3 linked regions of the Homo sapiens genome follow. The protein of the gene in region 1 purifies or fractionates together with the protein of each later gene. This does not show direct contact. Each region holds a gene or a part of one and is shown in the gene's direction. Other genes may lie near its edges.

Region 1 (4,152 bases):
TTAGTGAGGGAAAAAAAGATGCTTGAAATGTAAGAAAAGATCCTGAAGTATTTCTTTTCATCTTTATTCTCTCTGTTGCTTTTTCTTTTGATTTGAAAGATCAGATGAGACCACATATAAATATGTCTGGGAGGTGTCTTAGAGAACTTAACTCACTTCTTAAAAAGAGAAAAGAACTAAATACATTATGTGATAAATAAAGTATTTTTTATTGTACATTCTGTTTGAATCCTTGTTCTCTCAAAGGCTAGAATGAAAGAAAGAACAAGGAAAACCCCGTGTTTTATGATTTGTGACGATAATAGTCACCACAAGGTAGTTTTTTTCAGTGTTGTTAGGACACAGTTAACGACAACATATAAGAGAATCTGCATCGTTCAGTCACAAAATCTTCTCTTCAAATCAGAACTACAAACTGTATTCTAGATAGATATTTCCCTGTTAGTAAAATATAAACTCAGACATGGAAATTCTACATCTTTTTGGAGAAGTCTTAATGATTACACTAGGATCAACAGAATCCTACAACCAAAAGTCAATTTTTATACTTTTAACTTGTACTAACTATGCTGTTGAGAAAGCTGCTTTCAGGATGTAAGAACTAAATTATAATTAGTGTTTTCTAATAGGTGTGCAATACAGAGCTGGAAGCAAGAATAAAATTATTCACTTCAAGAAAAAGGAATATGATTATGCGGGAAGTATGTGAAGTGAAAATATTGTATGAATGTTTTACAGTAATTATTTAACACAATGCCATATATTTAAATTATCTTTTCATATGTCATTTGAAAACATTTAGGTACATTTGAATAGAAGTGGGTGTTCTTTGTGTATCTGTCAATAAGTAGTTTTTTACATTTGTTTATTGCATGAAAATATAATTGTAAAGGGTTTCATAGCCTATTCAGTGTAAGCCTATATCCTTCATATTTGAGAACTTCGATGTTTGGATTTAAACAGAGCAAATTGTACATGCTTTGGAGGAAAAAAATTTTTAAGTGATTAAAAAATATTTCTTATCAGATAATACCAAAGTCCTATTATACCTTCTTTTACACACCATAATGAATTAGTGATCAAGAACACAACTGTAGATTTAAACTAAAAGAAACAAAAAAGAAAGAACAAAAAAGACAGGCTGCATAGTGACAAGAATCCATCTCCCTTCATGCCAGTGAGGTTCTAGCTGTGAGCATGCTCAGAACATGGGAGGCACTGAACTTACTACATCAGAACTCCTGCTGAGGTATAAGAGGATACGTCTAATAACTCAATTGCTGTAAACCTATGATTGTTTTTCTGGTTTTTAAACATCTCTTCAGCCTCAGATTGATTACAATGTTCTTTCTACTTCATTTCATCGTTCTGATCAATGTCAAAGGTAAGGTTGCTACTTTCTCGTTTTAAATGAGTGCAATTCCCAAAAAATACATTTCTATGTAGTTCTATGGCAGTTGTAATAAATATATTGGGGTGTTTAAAAAAAAAACAGACATCAAATTTGCCTGGTATTTGTCATTATCTTTCATTGCTTGTAGTCCCACACAGCCTAGTAATTTTTAGATGCAACAAATTTTTCATGGAAACAAGCCTTTGTATGTTATTAAAGCTGTAGATAAAATATGTCAAAAAACAATGTTGACTATATCAATTAAAACATAGAAAACATTTTTGGCATTTGTTCTGAAAAGTGTGACAAATTAATAAACTAAAATTGTGTTTTGTGGAATTTCAACCTGTTGAAATATGCCCATAAAATTCAAGTAATTATTAGTAACTATCTTGCGTGAACATAATTAAACTGGGAACTCCAAAGCCACAGGCAGATCTAAAAAACAGTATCTGTCTCTAAGAGTAAACCTCTCTAAAATAAAGTTATTAAAAGTCTATACAAGTGCATTTACTTAGATAATTTTCTTTTGTTTTTAATTTGTGGAAATTTTTATTTCAGTCAAACTCTTAAGTTTCAAGTCAGTACCATTTTCATTGTAAAGCTCACCAAAAAATAAAACCTAAATCTTCACTTGTTTTTAAATAAAAAGATACGTTGTCAGCCTATACATTCATAAACAACCTATTAACCACACCCAAGATTTGCTGGGGTTTATTATTATTCAAAAATGTTTCTATTTTAATTTGTATTTTTTCTTAAAGAATTTTGATAAACCTCTGAGAATAAAGGTTAAAATTTGAAATTATTTTTATTTTCTGAGAAATTCGTTTTAGGTTTTTTAAATATTCAGTTTTATTAGGTGAATTCCAAGTGAATATTTTAAATCTTGAAATAAAATGCAATACTTATGAGGAATTATTTTAAAACTTCTAACAAACAAAAGATTTTTAAAAGGCTTAAAATATCTAAATTTTATTTTGAATTTAAAATAATACTAAAACTTTACTACAAATATTTAAAATCTATATCTCCATGCACCTAGCATGACTTTTATTTTATATTTTAATATCTCTTACATGAAAAGCTAAGGATTAACTAAGAAGAAACAATATATGAACTCACCTTGCATGCAGTACAGTTGCAACAAGCAGTCTATTTCTATATTTAAGGTCCTACTTCAGAAGTTCATGTTCTATCCACATTTGAATATTCAATTTTATACAATTTTAAGAATATACAGCTACAAAGCAGGTTCTTAAGACATGTCATAGAGCTCATCTGTGCCCTTAAAAAGTTCTTTAATGTACGGGACTATAACCACAGTTTAACCAATTTTACTATACTTTTGCTTTTATACATAATGCATTTAATTGATTTTGCTTAAACCGTTTATGAGATGAAAAACATCTATTACTAAAATAACATTTTGTGATTTACCATAATGTAAAGTCACCCTTTAAACTAAAAAAAAGTTCAATTAATAATTTTTGTTTGATTTTATTTCTAAGTAAAAGCCATATTTCAAACTCCTAGTACCAACCTAACAAATATTTATTGATTATAATCCTGGAAATTTTTATTTTCTAATTTTATATTACTTTTGACTACTAATTTAAACCTTTATGTTTAAAATGATTTCTTTTCAAAGCAAGACACATTAATCAATGCTTTGACATTTTATTCCTACTTATAAAAATAATAGAATTTGCTCTATAATTAGTAAAACTCTTTTCTTTTTCACAACAAAATTGTGGACAATTAAAACGGTAAGGCTTTTCATAGTAACCAAAGAAAGCTCATTTAGAGTTGCCTAAGAGTAAAGGTTGTCTTTTTAATTTAAATAATATTTGTGATAGACTCTTAGGCCAGATCTAAACAAAACATAAAATTAGAAATTATGTGATCGTCTTTTCTTCTCTGACCATCATCACTCTGGAGTGCCTAAGGAATGAGTGATTGCCTTAAGCTACAGGCACTAACAGACAACTATGCATAATGTATCTTATTATTATTACGTGTGTTTTATCATTAATTTATTCACTGTGTATCTCTGTTAACCAGCTTCAAACTACTTTTTAAAAAACATTTCTTAATGGACAAATTAGGAACCATATTACATATCAAAAACATGGGCTTATGTAGGAAATTAAAAGCATGAAGTATTGAGACTGCTACTTGGTAACTACCAATTGTGTTTTGTGGAATTTCAACCTGTTGAAATATGTCCATAAAATTCATGTAATTGTTAGTAACTATCTTGCGTTAACGTAATTAGACTGGGAACTCCAAAGCCACAGGCAGATCTAAAAACAGTATCTGTCTCTAAGAGTAAACATCTCTAAAATAAAGTTATTAAACATAACTTTAAACTTTTAAAAAACATTTCTTAATGGACAAATTAGGAACCATATTACAAATCAAAAACATGGGCTTATGTAAGAAAGTAAAAGCATGAAGCATTGAGGCTGCTACTTGGCAACTACCAATTGCTACTTAAATAATTTGCTTAACCTCCAAAATAGGTTAACCAAAACCGGGCCCGAACAGTATTTTGAGGGGAGCAGTGTTTGACTGCCCCCTAGTGGCCAGACTCAAGGCATGCCTGGCATGGTCCTTTCTTACGGATGTCAGTTTCACTTGGCCACTCTGACTTGAGAAAAGGTTTTCCATCTGAATTTTAATTTCACAACTTTATATTCATGCTGTGGATAGTTGTGAAAATCAATTATGTTTCAGGCCAGTCATCCCGAAGACTG
Region 2 (3,654 bases), on another chromosome or scaffold:
AATTCAGCAAAATAGTTTATCATTTGTGGAAGTGACAGTATTCTGTTTTTGTGTATATGAATGTCAAATATAATATAAATCGTCTTGCTTTTCTGTAGCTCAAAACTACTCATTTTTTTCTTTCTCAATTGTTCCAGCACCTTAAAAAAAAAGAAAGAAAGAACGTTTTTGTTTAAATAAGATTACAGGACTAATTAATGACTCTTAGTTTCTACCTGGCAACAGTTTTCTAACCTGATTTAAGCATTAGAACTCTAGGTAAAGGGAGTGGTGCAGAATCTACTTCTGTTCCATTCTCTGATACAAAAGTAAAGTTACTGGATGGACTGGCTTCTATAGGATTTATTAGTTGGGTAATAACTAAGGCTATCATTTCTGTTCTTAAGTCATGAACTTCTTGCTAGATGGCTTATATTTTTGAATCAGAAATATTGTATACACATTCCCTATTTTATTGTTGTTATATCTTTGTGTTAAGAGAAAGAGACTTATGTATAAGAGATATTTTGCTAGGCACTTAGTACTTATTATGCAACTTTGTCCTCCCTACATGTTTGCACATACATATCATTCTCTGTCATGGGAATTCAAGTCTGTGTACCTTCCCTTCTACACTCAAATTTGAGGTTGTCAAAGATGGAAGAATGTATATGTACCAGTTCTAAAAATTCTGTCTCAGCCATAACCATTTGATGTTCTTTTTCCAGAGATAAGCTTTGCCAAGGCATACATATGATAATTTGTGAGAGTATATAATTCAGCATATTTGAAGATGAGGAAATGAGACTTAGGATAAATAACTTTAAGTGCACCAGCTAAGAAGTGGCAGCTCTAGGACTTGACTCATGTCTATCTGATCCCAAAGCCTTTTCTGGTTTTAACATGCTGCCTTTCTAGATGGGTAGGATATAGATATACTTTTATTTAACAGAAGAAAGAACTAGTAGGGGAAATCATTTTACCTCAGTAGTCTTTTCTGTTAAACCAGTGGTTCTCAACACTAGCAATACATTAAAATATTTTGGGGAAACATTTAAAAAATATATCAATACTTGCGCCTGACCCCAGAGATTCTGATTATAAAAATTCTCTGATAATTCATGGATCCAAACTTCAGAAGCACTGCATTACATTAATGGATCTTTATGAAGCCAGTGAATCTTAAACAGTGTAAGACGCATCTAGGAAGCTTGCTAAAAGCGTAGATTCCTGAGCTTTACCTTCATTACATCCTATCATCTTGAGCCAGCAACACTTCAACACTTACTATCATGAGTTTAAGAGTCTATGTAGTAAGTTTCTCTTGCCAAGTAAAAAAAATTAGTCTCCACTTATGAACAGGTCTCTCTCTACTCAAGGGACTGGATTTATATCTTGACTCATTTCTAAGCCTATGAGCATAAGTGTTGTCAAAGCCAGAAATTCATGTGAGCATTATTTTCTCTACAAGGGATTTGAGGCCTATTCTATATAGATTTTATTTTCTGTTACATTTTTAATACTTTTAATATTTTCGCACATGTATTAGACTCTGGCAACGGGTAACTCGAGCCATAAATGCCAAAGACCAAACTGAAGCTACCCAAGAGAAGTATGTTTTGGAAGAAGCTCAAAGACAAGCTGCCAGGGATCGGAAAACAAAAAATGAAGAGTGGTCTTGCAAATTATTTGAACTTGATCCACTCACAGGAGAATGGCATTACAAGTTTGCAGAGTAAGTAACTTAAAATAGTTTATTTCAAACAATGTATTAGCATGGTTTGTTGCCTTTATTTCTAGAATATTTGTTGCTGGAGTAGTTTTTATTTAATTAAACCATGTATATTAGTGTGAGATTTTTAAACTTGGTTTTGCATTCATTATAAGCTTGACTCTATGATAGAAGTTAGCCTATAAAATAAGTTGAGGATCTGAAGATTAGGTATGGGGAAATCTCATTATTAGAACTATGTATATAATTATTAATAAAATTGGATCATAGAATAGAAAGTTTTAAAGTTCTTTGTTTAGTCATTGAGCAAATGGTTTTTTTTTTTTTCATTTATGTAGTACCCGACCATGGGACCCACTTAATGATATGATACAGTTTGAAAAAGATGGTGTTATTCAGACCAAAGTGAAACATCGTACTCCAATGGTATGTAATAAAAAACTAGGTACACTAGGTATATAAATCTGTTAAATCTTTAGTATCTATAGCAACCAACTAAAATTTGGTTTCAAAATTTAAAATTTTGGGTGAGCAAAATACGCAGCTCTGAACTCTTCTTACCCCAAAGAAACATCAGAAAACAAGCAAAAACTGTCAACTCAATTTGCCAGAACTCTGGAAAACAGTCAGAGGTGTTCAGCAACCAAGTGAACACTGGTCAAGAAAGTGCAAAGAGAGGAAAGCTTTGTGGCATTTTACCTGCCCTTGCCCCAGGTCCATCCCAGTGCAGTAGCAGTCTTGAAGAGCCCCTGCGTTGCCAGTGTAAGTCCCTAGTTCCAGAAGGAGCAGAGTGGACCTCATACACAATTGTGTATGTCTGTCCTAACCTGTCAGAATACTACCTGAAGGACTTACACAGGCACTCATCTCTGAGAAAATCAATAAAGACAAATTATTCAAGGGAGCCAAACAAATTCTGGAGCTGAAAAGTATAACAAAAATGAAAATTCACTAGAGGTATTCAAAAGCAGATATAAGCAAGCATAAGACAGGATCAGGAAACTTAGAGATAAGACCATAAAAATTATCCAGTCTGAGGAGGAGAAAGAAAAATGAATGAAGTGAGGTGAACAGAGCCTAAAGGACCCATGGGACACCATCAAGTGGGTTATCATTGCATTATGGGAGTTCCACAAAGAGAAGACAGAAAAATGAATGAAGAATATTTAAGGAAAGAAGACCCCCCAATCCCCAAATTTGGTGGAAGATATAAATCTACAAATTCAAGAAGCTCAACAAACTCCAAGTAGGATGATCTCAGAGAGACCCACACCACAACAAACTGTCAAAAGCCAAAGAGAGTCTTAAAATCAGCAGAGAGAAACAACTTATCACATACACTGGGGATCATCCATAGGATTAACAACCGATATCTTATAGAAACCATGGGGGCCAGAAGGCAATGAGATGACATATTTAAAGTGGTAGAAGCAAAAACTTGTCAATCAAGAATTCTGTATCTGGCAAAACTGTCATTCGAAAATGGGGGAGAAATTAAGACATTCCCAGATAAAAGCTGAGGGAGTTCATTACCACTAGACCTGCCCTACAAAAAAATGCTAAGGTAAATATGTAATAAAATGAAACTCAAAGCTGTATGAAGAAATAAAGATTTTTAGTAAATAGTTGGACAAATATAAAAGCTAGTGCTATTGTAATTTTAGTTTGTAAGTCCACTTTTTATTTCCTGCAGGACTTAAAAAATAAATGAATGAAAAATAATTTAATTACATATCTTTGTTATCAGACATACAATGTGTAAAGATATAGTTCATTACAACATAAAAGCAGAGAGGATGGAGCTGTATAGGAGGAAAGTTTTTATGTACTACTGAAGTTAAGTTGGTATCAACTCAAACTAGATTGTTGTAGAGGTAGGTGTAAATGTCATCCCCATAGTAACCACAAATGAAATATCTAAAAAAATACACACAAAAGAAAAT
Region 3 (3,654 bases), on another chromosome or scaffold:
TCTCTACTAAAAATACAAAAAATTAGCTGGGCATGGTGGCAGGCGCCTGTAGTCCCAGCTACTTGGGAGGCTGAGGCAGGAGAATGGCGTGAACCTGGGAGGCAGAGCTTGCAGTGAGCTGAGATCGTGCCACTGCACTTCAACCTGGGCAATAGAGCAAGACTCCAACTCAAAAAAAAAAAAAAAAAGATAAAATTGGGCCAGGTATGGTGGCTTACTCCTGTAATCCCAGCACTTTGAAAGGCTGAGGCAGGTGGACCACTTGAGGCCAGAAGTTGAAGACCAGTCTGGGCAACATAGCAAGACCCTATCTCAATCAGTCAATCAACCTAAATAAATAGTAAATCTGGTGGCATGCCAAGCACAGGACCTGGGTCTATAATCAAAATTCCTGTCTTGATGGGCACAGTGGCTCACACCTGTAATCCCAGCACTTTGGTAGGCCACAGTGGGTGGATCACCTGAGATCAGGAGTTCGAAACCTGCCTAGCCAAGTATGGTGAAACCCGTCTTTACTAAAAATACAAAAATTAGCCAGGCATGGTGGCAGGCGCCTGTAATCCCAGCTACTCGGGAGGGTGAGGCAGGAGAATCGCTTGAACCTGGGAGGCGGAGGTTGCAGTGAGCCGAGATCGCGCCACTGCGCTCCAGCCTGGGTGACAGAGCAAGACTCCGTCTGAAAAAAAAAACAAAAGAATTCCTGTCTTCTCTCCGAAACAAAGCAGCATCAGTGCCCCCGCAGGTGGGAGGGAGCGCTTGCAGGAGGGAGCAGTGGGTCCGCCACGACGGTCTGGGGAGCAGGTGGGGAGGGGGCAGAGGGTGCAGCGTGTGGTGGGAGGGAGGAAGCCACACTGCTATCTTCAGGTGCTTCCCGCAGCTCCATTTGCAAAGAGCGGATGGGTTTGGGGAAGGAAGGGGTCCCCACCCTGTGCCAATACAGCGTATCAGAGGTATGTTCTCTGGGCTGTCTACAGGTTGGCTTGGGGTCCTGGGGAGGGGCAGGCCAAGCGGGCAGTACTAGGATCGGGTCCCAGCATGACCCGGCTTCACCTTCCCAGAACAAGAATGTGGTGGTGGCTGACTTCGGGCTGGCGCGTCTCATGGTGGACGAGAAGACTCAGCCTGAGGGCCTGCGGAGCCTCAAGAAGCCAGACCGCAAGAAGCGCTACACCGTGGTGGGCAACCCCTACTGGATGGCACCTGAGATGATCAACGGTGAGTGGTTCAGCCCTGCCCATCATGGCCCTCACGGGAAGCCATGGGGGAGCCCAGGAGAGCTGTAACCTCCCAAGCCCCTGGCCCCTCCCAGCCTCCTTGGCTCTTCAGTTACCCTGTGGGTCCTGTTGCTCCTATAACACACTTAGTGGCAGCCAGGCACGGTGGCTCACGCCTGTAATCCCAGCACTTTGGGAGGCTGAGGTGAGTGGATCACCTGAGGTCAGTAGTTGGAGACCAGCCTAGCCAACATGGTGAAACCCCCATTCTTTACTAAAAATACAAAAATTAGCTGGGCATGGTGGTGGGTGTAATCCCAGTACTGTAGTACTGTAATCCCAGCTACTAGGGAAGCTGAGGCAGGAGAATCGCTTGAACCTGGGAGGCAGAGGTTGCAGTGAGCCGAGATCGCGCCATTGCACTCCAGCCTGGGTGACGAGCGAAACTCCATCTCAAAAAATAAATAAATAGAAGACACTTAGTGGCTTAAATAAATGATCATACAGTTCTGGAGTCTGAAGTCCAGCGTCAGCCTCACCGGGCTGAAATCAAGACGCCGGTAGGGTGAGCTCCTTCTGCAGGCTCCGGGGCACCTGTTTCCTGACCTTTTCTGGCTCGTGGAGGCTTCCTCATTCCTCCTGTTGCTGCCCCCTCCTCTGTCTTCAGGGCTGGCTGCAAAGCATCTTCTCTTCTCTGATCTCTGCATCCATCCCCGCATCTCTTTCCCTGGCTCTAACCTTCCTCCTTTTTTTTTTCTTTTTTAAAGAGGGTCTCGCTCTGTTACTCAGGCTGGAGTGCAGTGGTGCCACCATAGCTCACTGCAGCCTCAACCTTCTGGGCTCAAACTGTCATCCCACCCCAGCCTCCTGAATAGCTGGGACCACAGGCATGCAACACCACACCCAGCTAATTTTTTTATTTTTTATTTTTTATTTTTTTTTGAGACAGAGTCTCGCTGTGTCTCCCAGGCTAGAGTGCAGTGGCGTGATCTCAGCTCACTGCAAGCTCCGCCTCCTGGGTTCACGCCATTCTCCTGCCTCAGCCTCCCGAGTAGCTGGGACTACAGGCGCCCGCCAACACGCCTGGCTAATTTTTTGTATTTTTAGTAGAAACGGGGTTTCACCGTGTTAGCCAAGATGGTGTCGATCTCCTGACCTCGTGATCCGCCCGTCTCGGCCTCCCAAAGTGCTGGGATTACAGGCGTGAGCCACCGCGCCTGGCCAATTTTTTAAATTTTTAATAGAGACGGGGGTATCACTATGTTGCCCAGGCTGGTCTCAAACTCCTGGCTTCAGGCGATCCTCCTGCCTTGACCTTTCAAAGTGCTGGGATTCCAGGCATGAGCCACCATGGCCCTCCATCCTTCTGATAGGGACCCTTACGGTGACATTGGGCCCACCTGGATAATCCAAAAGCAGCCCTCCATCTCAAGACCCTCAACTTAATCCCATCTGCAGAGTCCGATGGAAGGTGGGACGTATACAAGTCCCAGGGATCAGGACGCAGTCATCTTTGGGGATCATAGTTCTGCCTCCCACAGGGTCTGCTTCCCTCAGTCCATTTCTTTGCTGTCAATGGTCCTATATATGCCCAGATTATAGGTTATAAAGTCCTTCTACAAGCAGGTGACACATGAACACAGGTTCAGGGCAGGCAGACCCCAGCCATCACCTCATCATAGTTAACCTAGTTAAATTAGCCTGGCATGTGGCGTGGTGCCTAATGCCTGTGGTCCCAGCTACTCAGGAAGCCAAAGCGGGAGATTTACTTGAGCCAAGGAGATCAAGGCTGCAGTGAGCTATGATCATACCACTGCCTTCTAGCCTGGGCAACGGAGTGAGACCCTGTCTCAAGAAAACAAAAAATAGGCCAGGCACAGTGGCTCACACCTGTAATTCCAGCACTTTGGGAGGCTGAAGCAGGCGGATTGCTTGAGGCCAGGAGTTCGAGACCAGCCTGGCCAACATGGTGAAACGCTGTCTCTACTGAAAATACAAAAATTACCCGGGTGTGGTGGCACAGCTACTAGGGAGGCTGAGGCAGGAGAATCACTTGAACCCAGGAGCAGAGGTTACATTGGGCCAAGATTGCACCACTGCACTCCAGCCTGGGCAACAGAGGAAGACTGTGTCTCAAAAAGAAAAAAAAAAAAACCTTCCTGTAATCCCAGCACTTTGGGAGGCTGAGGTGGGCGGATCACGAGGTCAAGAGATTGAGACCATCCTGGTCAACATGATGAAACCCCATCTCTACTAAAAATACAAAAAAATTAGCTGGGCGTGGTTGCACGCGTCTGTAGTCCCAGCTACCCGGGAGGCTGAGGCAGGAGAATGATGTGAACCCAGGAGGCGGAGCTTGCAGTGAGCCGAGATCGCACCACTGTACTCCAGCCTGACGACAGAGTGGGACTCTGTGTCAAACACACACACACACACACAC

What was found.
Region 2: the proteins of RXFP2 (region 1) and OSBPL8 purify together in Homo sapiens (affinity purification with mass spectrometry; one large-scale study listed by BioGRID and IntAct). This does not show direct contact.
Region 3: the proteins of RXFP2 (region 1) and LIMK1 purify together in Homo sapiens (affinity purification with mass spectrometry; one large-scale study listed by BioGRID and IntAct). This does not show direct contact.

What each region holds. Positions count from the first base shown.
Region 1 is NC_000013.11:31,738,323-31,742,474, forward strand, and holds the start of RXFP2 (relaxin receptor 2), read left to right. Parts: upstream 1-1,203; 5' UTR 1,204-1,290; coding exon 1,291-1,384; intron 1,385-4,152. UniProt on the Homo sapiens protein: Receptor for relaxin. The activity of this receptor is mediated by G proteins leading to stimulation of adenylate cyclase and an increase of cAMP. May also be a receptor for Leydig insulin-like peptide (INSL3).
Region 2 is NC_000012.12:76,367,697-76,371,350, reverse strand, and holds part of OSBPL8 (oxysterol-binding protein-related protein 8), read left to right. Parts: intron 1-1,528; coding exon 1,529-1,714; intron 1,715-2,049; coding exon 2,050-2,137; intron 2,138-3,654. UniProt on the Homo sapiens protein: Lipid transporter involved in lipid countertransport between the endoplasmic reticulum and the plasma membrane: specifically exchanges phosphatidylserine with phosphatidylinositol 4-phosphate (PI4P), delivering phosphatidylserine to the plasma membrane in exchange for PI4P, which is degraded by the SAC1/SACM1L phosphatase in the endoplasmic reticulum.
Region 3 is NC_000007.14:74,114,744-74,118,397, forward strand, and holds part of LIMK1 (LIM domain kinase 1), read left to right. Parts: intron 1-1,058; coding exon 1,059-1,215; intron 1,216-3,654. UniProt on the Homo sapiens protein: Serine/threonine-protein kinase that plays an essential role in the regulation of actin filament dynamics. Acts downstream of several Rho family GTPase signal transduction pathways.